Linked DNA regions of Homo sapiens. The protein of the gene in region 1 interacts with the protein of each later gene in a pairwise test. Each region holds a gene or a part of one and is shown on either strand. Other genes may lie near its edges.

The links. The genes of interacting proteins can lie anywhere in the genome.
Region 2: the proteins of OAT (region 1) and RSPH1 interact in a two-hybrid assay, tested with the Homo sapiens proteins (one large-scale study listed by BioGRID and IntAct).

The regions. Positions count from the first base shown.
Region 1 is NC_000010.11:124,399,364-124,401,923, reverse strand, and holds part of OAT (ornithine aminotransferase, mitochondrial isoform 1 precursor), read left to right. Parts: intron 1-84; coding exon 85-198; intron 199-939; coding exon 940-1,084; intron 1,085-2,560. UniProt on the Homo sapiens protein: Catalyzes the reversible interconversion of L-ornithine and 2-oxoglutarate to L-glutamate semialdehyde and L-glutamate.
Region 2 is NC_000021.9:42,486,225-42,489,724, forward strand, and holds part of RSPH1 (radial spoke head 1 homolog), read right to left. Parts: intron 238-3,500; coding exon 147-237; intron 1-146.

The DNA.
Region 1 (2,560 bases):
GGTGACAGCGAGACTCTGGGGAAAAGGATGCTTAGTAGAATGCTTAGTGCTGAGAAATGACATGGTGAATTGACTGTCTTTCAGGTGTCTGCAGTGCTGTGTGATGATGACATCATGCTGACCATTAAGCCAGGGGAGCATGGGTCCACATACGGTGGCAATCCACTAGGCTGCCGAGTGGCCATCGCAGCCCTTGAGGTAAAGACTGATACAGCCACACAGTGTCTATTCTTTAAAGCAATGTTGAAGTGATTTTTAATTTGGGCCCACTGGTATAATAAAAAATTCAATAAGAATGCCAAATATTAGAAAACATGAAGTATAGAGGAAAAATTTTAGGAACAAGATATTCTCAAAAAGTAATTTAAACTTGGCCTAGTAGACTGGATTTCCTCCGTGGGCTTCCTGAGTTCACAGTCACCTGGCGCTTTGAGTTCTTCGGCCCTGGCTGGCCCTCATAGAACTCTCAACTGTGACCCACCTACCAGACCCGTCTTTTTGCTTAGCAAGCAAGTCTTCTTTCAAGTGTGGATTTATAATGTTTTCAGACTGATTTTTTAAGTGCCTGCTGAAGGTATACAATTATTATGTAATCTCTGAGGACAGATCTTTGTGAGGGGGGAAGAAACTATTGCAGTTTAGGAATTACATTTCGTCCATTGATGTATTCAATTAATGACAGTATGTGAGTTGCATTAAATAAACTTTAATCCTTATTTTGCCATGAATGATTGGCAATAGATTTGTGATGAAAGCAAGACTCTGAGCTAGTGTATGTTTAATTAGAAACTAATACAGGCTTTGAAAAATAGCAATGAAAGTTAAGTTCCTCTGGTATTTTATCTAGTCATGTTTTTCCTGTGTTTACAGTCCCCGTTGTCCTCCAAAAAACAAAAAAAGGACAGTCTTAATATTTGTATAATTTTTCTTTAAACGTAGGTTTTAGAAGAAGAAAACCTTGCTGAAAATGCAGACAAATTGGGCATTATCTTGAGAAATGAACTCATGAAGCTACCTTCTGATGTTGTAACTGCCGTAAGAGGAAAAGGATTATTAAACGCTATTGTCATTAAAGAAACCAAAGGTATGGAGATAAAACATTTACTCAAGATAATTTTTTAAGGAAGACCTAAAATACACTTGGTATTTAATTTAATTAATTTATTTATTTTTCGAGACGGAGTCTTGCTCTGTCTCCTAGGCTGCAGTGCCGTGGCGCAATCTTGGCTCACTGCACTCTGCCTCCTGGGTTCAAGCAATTCTCTGCCTCAGCCTCCTGAGTAGCTGGGATTACAGGCGCCTGTCACCACGCCCAGCTAATCTTTATATTTTTAATAGAGATGGGGTTTCATAATGTTGGCCAGGCTGATCTCAAACTCCTGACCTCGTGATCCACCTGCGTTGGCCTCCCAAAGTGTTGGGATTATAGGCGTGAGCCCACCGCGCCCGGCCACACTTTTTTTTTTTTTTTTTTTTTAAGATGGAGTCTTGCTCTGTTGCCAGGCTGGAGTGCAATGGCGCCATTTTGGCTGACTGCAACTTCCGATGCCCCGGTTCAAGCGATTCTCCTGCCTCAGCCTCCCGAGTAGCTGGTATTACAGGCACGTGCCAACACGCCCAGCTAATTTTTGTATTTTTGGTAGAGATGGGGTTTCACCATGTTGGCCAGGGTGGTCTCGATCTCCTGACCTCGTGATCCGCCTGCCTCAGCCTCTGAAAGTGCTGAGATGACAGGCATGAGCCACTGCTCCTGGCCACACTTGGTATTTTAATTGGGTGTTGGGATGTTCTGTTTGAAACTGCTGACTGACATAATGACCAAACCTTTTAGACAGATTATTGTCTGATTTATAATTATATTAAGAGTATAAAAAATATAGCTCTTTTCTAAATGAAGGCACATTTAACCAATTTGACCCTTGTTCCTTTAAGACACTTATTTTTCTGCCTTAAATTAGTCATGCAGTATTTAGAGAGTTCAAGTTTTTTTGTTGGTGAGTCTGGACTTGAAAGTGTCCTCTTTGCTATCCTTCCCTCCCTCACTTTGATGCTTTGTGTCAGTAGAGGTTATAGGAGCAGCAGAAATAATGATATGAATGACAGTTATGGGGTCAATAATAAAAATAATGCTGGCTGTCACTTAATTGGGTGTTTGATGTTTTAGTACATCCTTTGTAACCCTTAGGTGTTCCTTGCTGGATTTTCTTGTGATAACTCTTCCTTTTAAAGCAACGATTCCAACCTCCCAACCTTGGCTGCACTTAAAGAATCACCTGAGGGGCCGGGCGCGGTGTCTTATGCCTGTAATCCCAGCACTTTGGGAGGCCGAGACGGGTGGATCACGAGGTTAGGAGATCGAGACCATCCTGGCTAACACAGTGAAACCCCATCTCTACTAAAAATACAAAAAAATAGCCAGGCGAGGTGGTGGGTGCCTGTAGTCCCAGCTACTCAGGAGGCTGAGGCAGGAGAATCGCTTGAACCTGGGAGGTGGAGCTTGCAGTGAGCTGAGATTGCGCCGCTGCACTCCAGCCTGGGCGGCAGAGTGAGACTCCGTCTC
Region 2 (3,500 bases), on another chromosome or scaffold:
AGCCATAGAAAGATTGGACCTGCCTGGCAGAGTTGGTAACTGGGCTTTTGTTATGATTCTGTTCCTCAGTAAGTGTAAACAATCTGCAGACATCATGTTCTCATTACATAAGCAAATCCCGTTAAGACCCAAGATAGAAACCGAACCTTTGATGAGCAAACCACTCTCCAGTGTAGGTGTCATTATTGATGTAGTAGTATACGCCATGGCCGTGCCGCAGGTCATTTGCCCACTCTCCTGAAAGGAACAACACAAAGGCAAGCCCAGGTGAGAAGAAGGGATCGATGCCCTGTACCATGTCTTCAAATTGTTAACCATGGCAAAGGCAGATGTGTTGTGAAGCAAATGAAGCCCATGCACACACAGGCCCCTTCTGCTCAGGAAATCCTGCAGAAGAGAGATTTTTAACAGCACCGACCAAGGCTGCTATCTGTTTCCACTCTGACATCCCTCCACCCCTTCCTTTTGTGCCAGATGGCATAGGTGCTGAGCCACGGTGGACAGTGGGCTAAGAGAGGGCTGAGTCAGGAGTTCACGGGGTACAGAGTGAGGTGTATGGATGTGGGCCACAGCCACCTGCATGTACTGACAAGCACATTTCACAGGTTAGTCAGAGGCACCACGAAGATGCAACGAGGAGGGAGACAAACCAAGGTTGTCTGACCCATTGCCAGTGATCCTAACACCACACTTCATTTACCTTGCAAATGTTTAGAGATCCAGCAACAACTCCAGGGCTTGACCATCTATCCTCAGCCACCTGGCAGCATTTCAGTCTATCTCCCACCCAATCATCTGACTCCAACATGCCACTCTAACCCCAGCTGCACACCAGCTCCATCCGCTGGTGCCATGCCTCTGTTTGAACTCTTCCCTCACCTCCTCACCTCCATACGGCTTCTGCTAAGTCCTTATAGGCTTGGTAGGCAGTACTGAAATTGGCAAGGATATCATAAAATTCATAATACCACTCCATGATGTGGACAACTGCAAACTACTTTTGTCAACCACAGTATGAATCCCTGCACTAGAAAACTCAAAACGTCCTCAAATCTTACAGCTCACTTAGGAAAGAAACTTAATAGAGGTCTCCCAAAGGTGACTGCTCTTAAAAACGTGCATATTACACCAAGTCATTAAGCTAAATGATATGTTTTGAGACTATGAATAATAAAAAGCAAATGTTGATCAATTTGTTGATCAAAGAGAAAAGAAGGAATTATATTTCTATTCTCTCTATAGAAAACATTACAAAATGGTTGCCATATGGAGAAGCATTCAAAGAGTATTAGCTAACAAAGGTAGAGAAAAGCTATTCTAGAAGTATGTCAGACATTAAAACTCAGGCTACTTAGATTCTGTGATGTTTGTGGTATTTTTAAATTTTTAACTTATTTTGATTTATCATTGCAAATGAAAATTCACTTTTATACCAACTTTATATTTTCTTTTTTTTAAAGAGGTTCTCAAAACTTACATAAGCTTCTGGCTTACACAAAAACTGGACCCACTTCCACATGAAGATAAAGAATACCCAATAGGCTAAGAAAATGCTAATTATTCAAGTAATATTTGTTTATGTGAATAACCCCAAAATTTATCTGCAGAAGGAACTTCTACATATTTATTTCCTCAATCATCCCATTATTTACTCAGCACCTACAATGTCCTGGGCACTTTGTGAGATGAACGAAGAGCTGTACAAAGGACAGTGCATGTCCCCAGGGCGCGAGCACCAGCCTGAGGATGGAAGGTTGGCACCTGAGCAGCAGCTGAGGACAGGGAAGGCAGCACGAAAAGCTGCATGGCACAATTTCAAAAAGTGGGTAAGTCATTCAGAAAAGAGCAGGCTTACCAAAAATTCATGGAGAGAGGGAAGGTGGCAACTGCTAACAATTAAGGAAGAGGACTAGGTCCCATGATGTGATGTGTGACAGGAACAATGTGAACAAGAGAGATGAAGATCCCCAAATTGAGATAATTCAGTAAAAAATACTTCAGGTCCCTGAACCTAAATTAACCATGAGGATGTGCAAATACCTAGAGGGATTTGTCTGGGTCTTAAGGGGCAGTGATGTGCCTGGATTTGTAACATTTGCCAGGTTCTGTGGTGTAAATACTCACACCGCGGCCAATTTCAAGCTACACATGGAGCTGGGAAGAGATGCACAGAATGGGTTTTTGTGAGCTACTATGAGGGGGTTCCAGCACAGCCCTGGGGCATAGAGACCTCAGCTGAAACAGGTACATCATTTGGTTTCTTCCCAACAAAACTTCATGACAAAATTATTACATCCCTCCTCTCTTGGCCATGTCAGAGGATCTCCAGGGTGTCATGGTGAGAAAAATATATTACATATTTTGCAGAAAAATTTCAAAAATAAAAGAGAACAGTTAAGTTGCAAAAGACACTAAATTTTGCACCAAGAGGACGGTGAGCAAAATTTTTTAAAGTCCCAATCTACTTAAAAAACCTGTTAAGAGGCTCGGCCCAGCATTTTGTAATGCCACCACAGGGACCCTGCACAAATAGAGAAGGTAATTCAGAGAAAAGTCACCTGCTGAGGCACATCTCTAACAGCTATAAGTCAAGTTTCCTTTTTTGAGGTGAGTGACATTTGTAAACTTTATTATTGTGGCTTTAAATTTGCACTTAATTTTTTTTTTAAAGTCTTTCTACCCCAATCCTATACTTTCTGATCATTCTTGAACTTGTCAACTGAGGTTTTTTCCAACTATATTTCTTCTCAGGAGTAACTCCCAGTTGGTTGGTTGGTTGGTTGGTTGGTTGATTTGTTGGTTAACTGGTTGGTTGGTTGGTTGGCTGGTTGGCTGGTTGGTTAGTTGGCTAACCGATTGGTTGGTTGGTTGGTTGGCTGGCTGGTTGGTTGGTTAACTGGTTGGCTGGGTGGTTGGCTAGTCAGTTGGCTGGTTGGTTGATTGGTTGGCTGTTTGGTTGGCTGGTTCGTTGGTTGTTTGGTTGGTTGGCTAGTCAGTTGACTGGTTTGTTGATTGGTTAGCTGTTTGGTTGGCTGGTTGGCTGGTTGGTTGGTTGGTTGGTTGGTTGGCTGGTTGGCTAATTGGTTGGTTGGTTAGACAGTTGGTTGGTTAATTGGTTGGTTGATTGGTTGCTTGGTTGGCTAGTCAGTTGGCTGGTTGGTTGATTGGTTGGCTGTTTGATTGGCTGGTTGTGGGTCAGTTGGCTGGTGTGGAGCAGGTGCTCCTTGGGTAGAGCAGTTTGTCTGGCACTTGGGATTGAAGACAATTTAAAATGAGAAGCTCTCCAAGATGCTCCTCCCCCCTCAAATGCTGGTTGGTCACTGGTTTGCCATGCTGGCCCATGGTCTTGCCAAGTTGGCTCCCTAAACTGCTGGGTCAGCCAAACACAGGAGAGAAGGAGCCCACACTTATGGGGAAACACTCGGTGTCAGACCCTGGGCAGGGTTCCGTGCACTTGCCACAGCATTTGGTATGTGTAATCGCTGAAATATGGTTTTACA